Linked DNA regions of Homo sapiens. The protein of the gene in region 2 interacts with the protein of the main gene of each other region in a pairwise test. Each region holds a gene or a part of one and is shown on either strand. Other genes may lie near its edges.

The links. The genes of interacting proteins can lie anywhere in the genome.
Region 1: the proteins of ZBED1 (region 2) and PRKAA1 interact in binary tests that used the Homo sapiens proteins (3 or more experiments, as listed by UniProt).
Region 3: the proteins of ZBED1 (region 2) and NCDN interact in binary tests that used the Homo sapiens proteins (3 or more experiments, as listed by UniProt).
Region 4: the proteins of ZBED1 (region 2) and TTC23 interact in binary tests that used the Homo sapiens proteins (3 or more experiments, as listed by UniProt).

Annotation. Positions count from the first base shown.
Region 1 is NC_000005.10:40,791,875-40,795,374, forward strand, and holds part of PRKAA1 (5'-AMP-activated protein kinase catalytic subunit alpha-1), read right to left. Parts: intron 1-3,500. UniProt on the Homo sapiens protein: Catalytic subunit of AMP-activated protein kinase (AMPK), an energy sensor protein kinase that plays a key role in regulating cellular energy metabolism.
Region 2 is NC_000023.11:2,490,977-2,494,476, forward strand, and holds part of ZBED1 (E3 SUMO-protein ligase ZBED1), read right to left. Parts: intron 1-3,500.
Region 3 is NC_000001.11:35,560,799-35,564,038, forward strand, and holds part of NCDN (neurochondrin), read left to right. Parts: coding exon 1-496; intron 497-1,593; coding exon 1,594-1,835; intron 1,836-2,403; coding exon 2,404-2,628; intron 2,629-2,968; coding exon 2,969-3,111; intron 3,112-3,240. UniProt on the Homo sapiens protein: Probably involved in signal transduction in the nervous system, via increasing cell surface localization of GRM5/mGluR5 and positively regulating its signaling. Required for the spatial learning process.
Region 4 is NC_000015.10:99,239,582-99,243,081, reverse strand, and holds part of TTC23 (tetratricopeptide repeat protein 23), read left to right. Parts: intron 1-1,522; 5' UTR 1,523-1,717; intron 1,718-3,500. UniProt on the Homo sapiens protein: Participates positively in the ciliary Hedgehog (Hh) signaling.

The DNA.
Region 1 (3,500 bases), on a different chromosome or scaffold from region 2:
CCACTATCCTGAATTTGGTGTTTGTGTTTCCCACGTTTAAATATTTTTACATGGGTAGGAATCCATAAAAAATATAGTAACATTATTTTTCATATTTATTTTTACAAATGTCATTGCATATATTTTGATAACACAATACCTGCACTATACACACAGTTCAAAAGTACAAAAGCATCTATGGTGCAACACAATGTCCTCCTTTACCTAGTCCCCTATACTGAGCAACTAACGTAACCAGTCTTGTGTGTATCTTTAAAGAGACATACTCTATATATAAAAGCAGTCACATTTAAGATACAGATTTGCCCCTGCCTTTTATACATAAGTGGTAGGCATATTGAACACACTGTTCTACTTTTTCCTCTTAAAAATACACCTTGGAAATTGTTCTCTAAAATATACAAAGTTCCTCCCTTTTTCTTCCTTAATGTTTGCAAGGTATTTCACTATATGGATAAACCATAACTATTACTATTAGAAAGGTTACTTCGAAAGTTTTGTATTAATATTTACAACAATATGGCAGCGAATAACCCATTATTTCATACACGAGTACATCTATAAAATAATTCCTAGAAGTTGAATTGTTAGGTTAATTTTAATAAATGCTGTCACTCTCTCATGTAGAGGTAGGATACCAATTTATACTCTACCAGCATTGTATGAGTGGTTCTGTAGGTTTCTAAAATTTATATAAATAACAGCAAACTATACATATTCTTATACAACTTGCTTTCGAGGTCTAACCTTATATTTTTAAGATTCATTCACACTGATATATATAGCTCTAGTTCATGTTTATAATTTTTACTTAAAGGAATTTTTAAATAACTTCTACTATGATTCATTCACAAAGTACCTATGTAGCTGAAATTGCAGTTTTACACAGAAATACTTACGAACTTAGGCCAAGCATGGTGGCTCATGCCTGTAATCCCAGCACTGTGGGAGGCTGAGGTGGGTGGATCACCTGAGGTCAGGAGTTCGAGACTAACCTGGCCGACGTGGTGAAACCCCATCTCTACTAAAAATACAAAAAAAAAATAGCTGGGCGTAGTGGTGGGCGCCTATAATCCCAGCCACTTGGGAGGCTGAGGCTGGAGAATCGCTTGAACCCGGGAGGTGGAAGTTGCAGTGAGCTGAGATCGCACCATTGCACTCCAGCCTGGGCGACAAGAGTGGAACTCCATCTCAAAAAAAAAAAAAGAAAAAGAAAAAAAAGAAATACTTGCCAACTTAATAGTTTATATGTATAAATAACTCATTTGCCGAAGATACACCCAGCCTACCAAAGAGACCATCTTCTCTAGAAAAACTAACAAAGACTGCCATTTTAATGATATTACTCTGCTCATCCATGCTTTTTTTGGGCAGAGGGAAGGCCCACAAGGGCACAGAACCTAACATCTTGATAACTAGAAGGAAAAAAAAAAGATGCCTTGGAAACAATAAAGACAATTCAAGCATAATCACAAAATAACCCTAGTTTTCTGTAAACTTTCCTCTCAAAATGCTACCACTAAGTAACCAAACAAATTTTTTGGCCTGTAACAGGAAACAATCACTCCGAACTTCCAGCCTACTCTCCCCGCAAAATTAAATTTCCTATAAGCATGGAATATCATACTTAGACTTTTTCTGCATATCAATATCATATATTTTATTAGATCCCTCTTCATGTTAAATTTACCAATATGTATAAGTAATTTTTAAAGCTTTCTTTACTCCAAATTGTCTAAACATATGGTTAACCCTATTATTTGCAAGAATTCTTGCATAATTAAGGCTGTTGGTGTTTAATTACCAACATCACCACAATAGTGGCCATTTCTGTGTGTTCACTGAGTATCCATGTCCCCCTTTCTCTCTCCTAACAACATCCATTTATGTGTAGGTGTCTACCCTGTCCCCCCACACTATCCAAGTACTTAGAAGATGTCTCCCAGCCCAGCACGGTGGTTCAGGCCTGTAATCCCAGCACTTTGGGAGGCCGAGGCGGGTGGGATCACCTGAGGTCAGGAGTTCAAGACCAGCCTGGCCAACATGATGAAACCCCATCTCTACTAAAAATACAAAAATTAGCAGGACGTGGTGGCACACGTCTGTAATCCCAGCTACTAGGGAAGTTGAGGCAGAAGAATCACTTGAACCTGGGAGGCAGAGGTTGCAATGAGCTGAGATTGCGCCAATGCACTCCAGCCTGGGTGACAAGAGCAAAACTGTCTCCAAAAAAAAAAAAAAGTGTTCCCTGTTCACCACATGCACACTAAAATCTATCTACTGCTTTTTGATTTTTTGATGATGGCCATTCTTGCAGGAGTGAGGTGGTATCACATTGTGGTTCTGATTTGCATTTCCCTGATCATTAGGGATGCTGAGCATTTTTTCATGTTTGCTGGCCATTTGTATATCTTCTTTTGAGAACTGTCTATTCATATCCTTAGCCCACTTTTTGATGGGACTATTTGTTTTTTCTTACTTATTTGTTTGAGTTCATTGTGGATTCTGGATATTAGTACTTTTTCAGATGTATTGATTAGGAAGATTTTCTCCCACTGTGTGGGTTGTCTGTTTACTCTGCTGTTCCTTTTCCTGTGCAAAAGCTCTTCAATTTAATTAGGTCCCATCTATTTATCTTTGTTTTTATTGCATTTGCTTTTGGGTTCTTAGTCATTAAATCCTTGCCTAAGCCAATGTCTAGAAGGGTTTTTCCAATGTTATCTTCTAGAATTTTTATAGTTTCAGGTCTTAGGTTTAAGTCCTTAATCCATCTTGAGTTGATTTTTATATAAGGTTGAGAGATGAGAATCCAGTTTCATTCTCCTACATGTGGCTGGCCAATTATCCCAGCACAATTTGTTGAAAAGGGTGAACAGGGAACACTTCTACACTGCTGGTGGGAATGTAAACTAGCACAGCTGCTATGGAAAACAGTGTAGATATTCCTTAAAGAACTAAAAGTAGAACTACCATTTGATCCAGCAATCTCTTCTGAAAAGAAGTCATTATTCGAAAAAGATACTTGCACATGCATGTTTATAGCAGCACAATTCACAATTGCAAAATCGTGGAACCAATCCAAATGCCCATCACTCAATGTATGGATAAAGAAACTGTGGTGTATACATATATATACACACACACACACACACACACACACAAAATGGAATACTACACAGCCATAAAAAGGAATGAATTAACAGCATTTGCAGTGACTTGGATAAGAGTGGAGACTATTATTCTAAGTGAAGTAACTCAGGAATGGAAAACCAACACAGTATGTTCTAATCACTGATATGTGGGAGCTAAGCTATGAGGACGCAAAGGCATAAGAATGATACAGTGGACTATGGGGACTTGAGGGGGAAGAGTGGGAGAGGGGTGAGGGATAAAAGACTACAAATATGATGCAATGTATACTGCTCAGGTGATGGGTGCACCAAAATCTCACAAATCACCACTAAAGAATTTACTCATGCAACCAAATACCATCTGTACCC
Region 2 (3,500 bases):
TCCGACTGCAGCGATGCCGCACGTGTCAACATACAGGTTTGCGAGTGAGCACGGCATTTTTGCAGGGCTGTACCTGACAAGTGCCTTTAGTTTTTTTTTTTTTTTTTTTTTGAGACAGAGTTTCGCTCTGTCACCCAGGCTGCAGTGCAATGGCGTGATCTCAGCTCACTGCAACCTCCGCCTCCCGGGTTCAAGCGATCTTCCTGCCTCAGCTTCCTCAGTAGCTGGGATCACAGGCACCTGCCATCACGCCTGGCTAATTTTTGTATTTTTAGTAGAGACAGGGTTTCACCATGTTGGTCAGGCTGGTCTCGAACTCCTGACTTCAGGTGATCCACCCGCCTTGGCCTCCCAAAGTGCTGGGATGACAGGCGTGAGTCACCGCGCCCAGCCTGACAATGCCTCTGTCATCGCAGGGGCTTGTTGTTCCTGTCCTAAGAGTTTCCCAAGCACCTGCCACGTGGGAAAGCTGCGTAGATCTTTTCTGGGGATGAAGCCTACATAGAAGAATCCACAAGTGGCCAGGCAGACCCCCCACTGCCAACCATCACAGCAGGACTCTCTGAATGCCACCTGAGCTTCATTCACTGCATTAAAGAAGCCAAACAGGACCTCCATCTGACTAAAGCCAGCTTTCCTATGGCTAAGAGGCACTGCACACTCTTCTCAAACTTTATGGTTTAAAATGAAGCCATGTGGAACGTCACAGGTGCATCCGTGATCTGTAAGCACGTCTGAAGAAGCATGGATTTCTCAATCCCTGGAACTTCTCAAAATGCCCATTGTGTCCAGTCACACCTGTGGGCAGAAAGGCCCAACTGGGCAAATATCACACACCTGTGCAAACATCAGGCAGTCGGTGTGGAGGCTTAGATGACCCAGAAGCCAGTCCCCAGGGTTCCTGTTGAGGTTGAATGCTCACACATACAGGCCCTTCCAGCTGCCACTCAGGAGGCCACCTCTGTGACTGGGTTGCCCAAAATGACAGCTGGGCTTTGTTAAAAGGTGTAATTGTGTCTCCAAGTGTCCAGTACAGTGCTCAGGAGGGTAAATATCAAAATGCACCACCCAGGCACGTTCAGAGTGTTGGGATACAGTCAGTGCAAGGAGGCATATTTCAATGATGACTATAGTGGGTTGAAAAGCGTCCTCCCCTACCAAAGAAAATCTGTATCCACCTGGTACTTGTGTATGGGACCTTGTTTGGAAAAAGGGTCTTTGCAGATGTATTAATAATGAAGGTAAGGATCTTTAGATGAGATTATTCTCAATTGAGGTGGTCCTAAATGCAGTGACCAGTGTCCTTAATAGAAGACAGATGAGGAGACACGGACACACAGGAGAAGACCACATGGAGACAGAGGCCGAGACTGGAGTGATGCGGCCACAAACCCAGAACGCCTGGAGCCCCCAGGAGCTGGGAGAGGCAGGAAGGATCCTCCTCTAGAGCCTCCACAATGAACTGGATAAAATCATGGTGGATTGAACAGTGGCCCGCAGAAAGATCTGTCCACAGCCTAAAGCCCAGGATGTGGAATGAGATCTTACTTGGTTATTAGAAATTTTGTAGATCTCATGAGTTAAGGATCTGGAGATGAGATCATCCGGGATTTGAGTGAGCCCTAAATGCAGTGACAGATGTCCTTATAAAAGACAGAAGAGGAGACACAGACACAGAGAAGGCCACATGGAGACAGAGGCAGAGACTAGAGTGATGATGTGGCTGGCCTGAAGCCCAGGGACGCCAGGAGCCCCCAGGAGCTGGGAGAGGCAGGAAGCACCCTCCGCGTAAGCCTCCGGAGGGAGCGCAGCCCTGAGACACTTTGATTACAGACTTCTGGCCTCCAGAACTGGGAGAGAATAAGCTATGGTTTTAAGCCCTCCGGTTTCTGGTACTTTATTAAAGCAAGGTATTCTGAAGGTTAATTTTGCCCGAAATAATGAGTGGAGGTCTTAGAAAGGCCCCCCGTCTTCACGGGCAGTCGCGGCCTGCGTTGCTGGCTTTCCGTCAACGGTGCCCGCCCAGTGCTTTTTAGGGAGACGCCGCCACGTGCCAGGTGAGCTGGGCATTGCCAGAGCCCAGCAGTGCCACTTCCCAAGACTGGGGTGCAAGGAGGGGGGTCCTGTGGCCAATGCCAGCACCCTGGTTTGTTCTAAGGTGCTGAGAGAATGAATAACATGACCGGGACTTCCACAAAACGAGGAACCCCCAAACTGCATCTTCTGCAGCCGAGTTAGGGTGGGGCCCCTGGATTACACAGTCAACGGAGGGGGAAAAGAATCTCAAGAGGCCTCCTAAGTCCGACCTGAGTGACAGGACACAGCTGTATCAGATCCTCCATCATCATCATCATCATATTATTATTTGGCTGAAACAGGTTTTGGTAATTGGGAGGAAAAGGTTTACATTCCATTATTATTATTTGTGCTATTGGGCTGAAAGAGGTCCCAGTCCTCAAACAAAAGTTTAAATTCTATTTATTATTATTATTATCATTATTATTATTATTATGTGGCTGAAAGCGGTTCTGGAACCTGAAGGAAAGGTTTCAATTCCATTATTATTATTATTTTTATTATTATGAAGATTAGGCTGGAAGAGGTCCCAGTACCAGTAACAAAGGTTTATATTCTAATTATTATTGTTACGGTTGTTATTATTATTAGGCTGAAAAAGGTCTCAGTACCTGTAGCAAAGATTTTTATGCTGGCACCAGGCACAGCGGCTCACGCCTGTACTCTCAGCACTTTGGGAGGCCAAGGTGGGTGGATCATCTGAGGTCAGGAGTTTGAGACCACCCTGGACAACATGGTGAAACCCCTCCTCTACTAAAAATACAAAATTAGCCGGGCGTGGTAGTGGCACATGCCTGTAGTCCCAGCTACTCGGGAGGCTGAGGCACGAGAATCGTTTGAACCCGGGAAGCAGAGGTTGCAGTGAGCCGAGATGGCGCCATTGCACTGTAGCCTGGGCAACAAGCGCAAAACTCCGTCTCAAAGAAAGAAGAAAACAAAAAAAAAGATATATATGCTATTATTACTATTGTTTTTAGGCTGGAAGAGGTCCCGATACCTGGAAGAAAAGTTTGTACTCGGTTATTATTATCTGTCTGAAAGAGGTCCTGAAAGCTGGAGCAAACATCCATATTCTATTATTATTATTATTATTGTGATTGTTTGACTGAAAGAAGTCCCAGTGCCTGGGGCCAAGGTTTATATTCTATTATCATTGCTGTTATTATTATTTGGCTGAAACAGGTCCTGGTACCTGTAGCAAAGGCTTATATTATTACATTATTATTATTATTAGGCTGGAAGAGGTCTCGACACCTGGAACAAAAATTTTCATTCTATCATTATTATTATTATTAGGCTGAAAGAGGTTCTAGAACCTGGAGCAAAGGTTTTTATTCTATTATTATTACTTTTGTTATTAGGCTGAAAGAGGTCCCAGTAACAGAACAAAAGTTTATATTCTATTTTATTACTATTTGGCTGAG
Region 3 (3,240 bases), on a different chromosome or scaffold from region 2:
CGACCTGCTGGCCGTGTTGCGGGGCCTCAGTGAGGATTTCCAGAAAGCTGAGGATGCCAGCAAGTTTGAGCTCTGCCAGCTGCTGCCCCTCTTTTTGCCCCCGACAACCGTGCCCCCTGAATGCTACCGGGATCTGCAGGCCGGGCTGGCACGCATCCTGGGAAGCAAGCTGAGCTCCTGGCAGCGCAACCCTGCACTGAAGCTGGCAGCCCGCCTGGCACACGCCTGCGGCTCCGACTGGATCCCGGCGGGCAGCTCCGGGAGCAAGTTCCTGGCCCTGCTGGTGAATCTGGCGTGCGTGGAAGTGCGGCTGGCACTGGAGGAGACGGGCACGGAGGTGAAAGAGGATGTGGTGACCGCCTGCTATGCCCTCATGGAGTTGGGGATCCAGGAATGCACTCGCTGTGAGCAGTCACTGCTTAAGGAGCCACAGAAGGTGCAGCTCGTGAGCGTCATGAAGGAGGCCATAGGGGCTGTTATCCACTACCTGCTGCAGGTGAGGGTGCAGTGACCCACAGAGGGGGCCCAGTATGGGGGGAGCCAGTGCTGGAGCTGGGAGGCAAGGGGGAGGAGAATAATGGGGAGACAGCGAAGCTGCATGTCCACACAAGCTGATACTGTAGCCAGCACTCCAGGGAGTAGTGTGCGGCCCAACCTCCCTCTCTCTCCCTCCCTCCACACAAGCACCATACCACACACCATATGTGCACTCACATCACAGTACACACACACGCACACACACACAACACAGTAACCTCCCACTCAAACGCTCCCCCCAATACACACACACTACACGCCACACACCTCTCCCCAACACATGCACACAAGATTGAAGCAGTCTGTTCTGCTCACTCCATAGCATTGTTTTATACACGCACACACCCGAACTTCTAATGGTGCAGGGAAGAGAAGCAGGGCTGCCTGGTTCCTGGCCTCTATAGAGGTCTGGCTAGATCAATTCGCCTGCCTCCCCTACATCCCCTCCTGCCTCCCCGCCTGAGAGGCCAGCTGTCCTGTCCCACAGGGATTCAGTCATGACTCTGGTCTCTTTAATGGCCTGCTCCAGCCACCGAGCTCACCAGCCATATATTCCATGCACCACGCTAAGCTCATGTCTTTTTTCTGACTTAGCACAAAAGAGAGCATCCCCTCACTCCCACCATTGGGAGCAGTTACACAGTAGCCAGGAACCTGCCCTCCCACCCCAGGTCAGAGCTGCTGTAAAGGGTGTTTAACTTAGCTTTTGACCTATGAATTTCCTTCTAGCCTTGAGACACTCCAGAGGTAGGGAGTTAGGGAGATGTGACTGGAGCCTCAGCGAGTACGGGGGCATGTCACTCAATTCACTCAGGCCCAGTTCACTCAGCAGACGTGTGTGGAGGGCCTGGCTCACTCTGTGCCAGTCCCTTGTGTGCGTCCCTACCACATGCTAGGTGCTGGGTTCATGGGACAGAATAAAGGTTGGGGCCTGCCTTTGAAAGGCTCACAGGCCAGAATTTCCTTCTAGTTGTATTATTTCTAGCTGGCTGGCCTCTGGCAAGGCAGGGAGGGTCCCTGGTCCTGCTCCATCTCAAGGGGGTCCTGTGGCAACAGGTGGGGTCAGAGAAGCAGAAGGAGCCCTTTGTGTTTGCCTCGGTGCGGATCCTGGGTGCCTGGCTGGCCGAGGAGACCTCATCCTTGCGTAAGGAGGTGTGCCAGCTGCTGCCCTTCCTCGTCCGCTATGCCAAGACCCTCTACGAGGAGGCCGAGGAGGCCAATGACCTTTCCCAGCAGGTGGCCAACCTGGCCATCTCCCCCACCACCCCAGGGCCCACCTGGCCAGGAGACGCTCTCCGGTGAGTCTGTAGTTACAGTCTGTCCAGCTAGATCATTCTACCGAAAAGCGTTAACACAAGGACACCCCTCCCCACAAACTGAGCTGTGCCAGGCTTCCTGATTGGGCCATGAGATATCCCTTAGGGTTATTTCTGTTTTGGGGGGCTTGTTCCCACAGGACTCCTCGGCTGCCAGGTGTCACTTGCCAACCCCAGATTTCTCAGTTAAAAGAGAACTTATACTTATTGAGCACCTACTACGAGCCAGGTATTTTGCTATACCCTTTACCAAAATGATCTCATTTGGTCCACGTGGTAAATATAACAGAAGTCTCATTCACATATGAAAGATTAGGAAACTGAGGCTCATAGAGATTAAAGTCACTTGCCCACAGTCACACTTTGTGGCAGAGCCCAAGTTTGGTCCTGGGTTGTGCGACTCTGAAGCTTGTACTTTTTCTGTGGTACCTGCGAGGATGTGTCCTTCTCCCCTACTTCCATTTCTCTTAGGCAAGGTGCCCTAAAAAGGGAATCTATGTGCCTTCATCTCTCCCAATCCCACACACGTCTGTCCCTTCCACATCCCCAGGCTCCTCCTGCCTGGCTGGTGCCACCTGACCGTTGAAGATGGGCCCCGGGAGATCCTGATCAAGGAAGGGGCCCCCTCGCTTCTGTGCAAGTATTTCCTGCAGCAGTGGGAACTCACATCCCCTGGCCACGACACCTCGGTGCTGCCTGACAGCGTGGAGATTGGCCTGCAGACCTGCTGCCACATCTTCCTCAACCTCGTGGTCACCGCACCGGGGCTGATCAAGTGAGGGGCTCGGGAGAGGTGGGGGAGGAGGCCGGAGGAGGCAAAGGAGGCTGCCCAGTTGCCTCAATTCTCAGTCTCCTACTTTGCCCCCCATGCCCATGGATTTGTTAGTGGTAGCATGGGGGTCTCAGAGTAGACATAGCCAGCCCCGCACAAGGATTCGGCATGCTGGAACCCCCAGGTACTGTCTCAGCATGTCTGCTTGTTCCAATCTCTGCCCCCCAGATGCTATGTTTGGGGCCCAAAGTTAATCACCCTACTGCCTAATTTCTTGCCAAGGGCTTGATTTGGCTGTACTAGACCCCCACCTACCTCCATCCTTCCCCCCTTTCTTTTCCAGGCGTGACGCCTGCTTCACATCTCTAATGAACACCCTCATGACGTCGCTACCAGCACTAGTGCAGCAACAGGGAAGGCTGCTTCTGGCTGCTAATGTGGCCACCCTGGGGCTCCTCATGGCCCGGCTCCTTAGCACCTCTCCAGGTAAGAACTGGGGATCCAGTCCTGATGGGTGAGGACAGAAGACCTGGGTGGACCTCCTGTGTTTGGGGCAAAAGTCACCATTTTTAGAAGATGGTTTTGCAGCATTTTCTAAGCAAGAGGAAATCTTTG
Region 4 (3,500 bases), on a different chromosome or scaffold from region 2:
TTTCTCCCATTCTGTGGGTTGTCTCTTCACTTTGTTGATTGTTTCCTTTGCTATACAGCAGCTTTTTTACTTGATGTGATCCCATTTGTCCATTTTTGTTTTGGTTGCCTGTACTTTTGAGATCTTTCTTAAGAATTCTTTCCCCAGACCACTGTCCCAGAGAGTTTCCCCAGTGTTTTCTCTTGGTAATTTTATAGTTTCAGGTCTTATATTTAAGTCTTTAATCCACTTTGATTTGTAAAATCAGGCTTTTATCAGCCTTTTATCAGGTTGGGGAAGTTTTTTTAATCATGATTGGATAATGGATTTTGCCAAATGTGTTTTCTGCATCTATCAAGATGATCAGATGGTTTGTGACCACATTCTACTGTATAGTGTATTATATTAATGAGTTCAGATGTTAAACCAACCTTCCATTTCTAGGATAAACTCCCCTTGATCATAATGTATTATCCTTTGTATATGTTGCTAGATTTGGTTTGCCAATATTTTGTTGAGGATTTTTGTGTCCATATTCATGAAGGGTATTCATTTGTTATTTTCTTGTGATGTCTTTGTCTGGCTTTGGTATCAGGGTAATACTGACCTCATAGAACAAGTGAGAGTTTCCTTCTCTATCTTCTGTTAGAGTTTTCAAAATACTCATGTTGTTTCTTCTTTAATGGTTTGGTAGAATACATCACTGATGCCATCTGAGCCTGGGCTTAACCTTGTATAAATATTTTTAATTACTAATTTAATTTTTTTACTTGTTATAGATCTATTCAGATTTTCTATTTTTCTGTTATTTTTTTATCACTATTTTTTTGGTATTTTTTATCTTTTTAGAGTGTTTTTCCAGTGCGTTAGCTTACATATGGGTAAGTTTGCTTCTTAACTAGCGTACACTTTCACTAGTTAAGAAACTAGTCATAATGGCTTCTTTTTTTTAACTTTTTTTTTTTTTTTCTGAGACAGGATCTTGTTCTGTCACCCAGGCTGGAGTGCAGTGGTGTGATCTCAGCTCACTGTAGCCTCCGCCTCCTGGGCTCAAGCAGTCCTCTCCCGTCAGCCTCCCAAGTAGCTGGAGAAGCCGAGCGCCACCACACTCGGCTAATTTTTGCAATTTTAGTGGAGACGGGGTTTTGACATGTTGCCCAGCCTGACCTTGAACTCCTCGGCTCAAGCCATCAACCCATCTCAGCCTCCCACAGTGCTGATATTACAGGCATGAGCCACCGTCCCTGATTGATGAGGTTTTTTATTTCCTAAAAGCCACTGCCCTGAGGGCCCCTGCCCCTTCCTCAGGCTCCCCTACATCTCTCCACAAGTCAGCCTCCAACGGTTCACACCTGGAAAAGCAGGGGACCTTCAGAACTGAGCTCCAGCCTAGTTGGCACCTATATAGATTGGTTGGCCCTCCTGCTATTTCAGTTATTATTTTGAACATCACCACTTGGAAGACTGAGACTCCACTTCAGACCTCTTCTTCCTAACACCCTGATCTGGGGCTGATTATGTGCTTTAACATTCTACTGGGCAGGTCTGGCAGAAGGAACAGTATCAACTGACTGAGTAGGTCTCATTGGCAGTTGTGATTCAGAGACCTAGAAAGCTGAACCCACGGCTGGCAAGAAGAGGATGGTTTGTGGGACCTGGGCTGATGTCTGATGAAATTTTAAGCCCCAGCTATAGCTACTACAAAGAAAAGTGGCTGATGATAAGCATGTAACTCAAAGTAAGTGAACTGAGAAGCATGTTTTTTGTTTGTTTGTTTGTTTGTTTGTTTGAGACAGTTTCGCTCTTGTTGCCCAGGGTGGAGTGCAGTGGCACAATCTCGGCTCACTGCAACCTCTGCCTCCCAGGTTCAAGCGATTCTTGTGCCTCAGCCTCCGAGTCGCTGGGATTACCAGGTGTGTGCCACCACACCTGGCTAATTTTTTGTATTAGTAGAGACAGGGTTTCTCCATGTTGGTCAGGCTGGCCTCGAACTCCCGACCTCAGGTGATCTGCCAGCCTTAGCCTCTCAAAGTGGTGGGATTACAGGCATGAGCCCCCGCGCCCTGCCTGAGAAGTATGTTTTTATGTTGAGGATGTTACTGTGTGATGCCACATACATTGAAACACATACATTTAAAGTAAGGCCACAGACTCAAATGCCTCTAGAAGCCAGACAGGTAGCATACCTCCTCCTTTCATTGATTCAGAGACGTACATTTTTTTTGGCATTTGAACATCTCTGAAATTAGAGTGAACGTTACAATTGCAAGTCAAATGGTGTATAAAAAAGCAGCATCTTTATAGTCAGTGGTGCTTTAGATTAGACGAAATAACAGAAAATGAGTGGTGTTGGCCAGGAAAATTATATCCTTCTCTGTTGGCCTTTCACTTTGAAAGAGAGAAATGGATACAGAGACCTACTTTCCTACAATAAGACACAAGAACAATGACAAATGGGAACGACTTTGCTGCCTTCATGTCCGGTAGCCAATAGGGATTGGTGGCAACAGGCAAACTGGAGAGTACCCTTGCCCCCAGGGCAGCTCCCCCTCTTCCCTAGCTGATTATTGCCTGTGGTGGCATAGATCTAGTGTTGACAAGTGTTCTGAGTTTTCAAAGGAAGTCAGAAACCCCAAAATCTACATCTTCATGTGAAACTCCTAATTTTAAAATGATGGCTCAATTTTTTTTAACTGGCGAAAAAAAATATATATATACAAGTTAGATGAGCCTATGAGTGCTCAGAATAAATATAACCTCTCTTTTAAGGATGCAATATTAAGAGGCAGCATGAGACAAACCAGTTTTTACAATTAAGCCAAAAAAGAAAAGTTAAATCCATTTCGAAGTTTAACACTAGGTTCAGAGGCCCAGAATAACAAATACTGCAGGGCCTCTTACTTATTTCATCTTTAAACTTTCTTTTCTGCCTCCCACTAAATGGAAGATAAGAAAATATAGTTAAATCTATTGAAGATGTTGCATTCCTGTTTATAAAAATGTATGATCACTTTTTAAAATGCAGGCTTAGGTTTCCAAAGCAACAGCATTTGCTTCCCACTGCTGTAGACTGTGGTCAGTGAAAGGCAGGATGATGTCATGGGAAACCCCCAAATTATGAGAAGACCAGGGTGCTAATTCTGGCTGTGTGATGTGCAACTGATTTAGGTTCATTTCATCGTCTTTATTTATAAAATGGGGATGATAATAGCTACCCTCTGTACCTTACATGGTTGTAAGGGCCACATGAGATAAAACATGTGAAAGTATAAAGTGTTATGTATATATTAGTTGGTATTGCCCAAATCACATGGGTAGTTGGGACAGCACAGGTTCTTGAATCTCAGATTCTCCATCTCTGGCTACTGCTCTTTCCCTAGACTGCAGCACCTGTTGAAATGGTCATCTTATCAGCCAGTGGGGTTGAACAGATGAGGAAGCATAAGGCAAGAAGTTATTAGAAAAAAGTTAGCCAACATCTTAGGATCTCAAATAGCACTGTGTCTCTGTACAACAGGGTG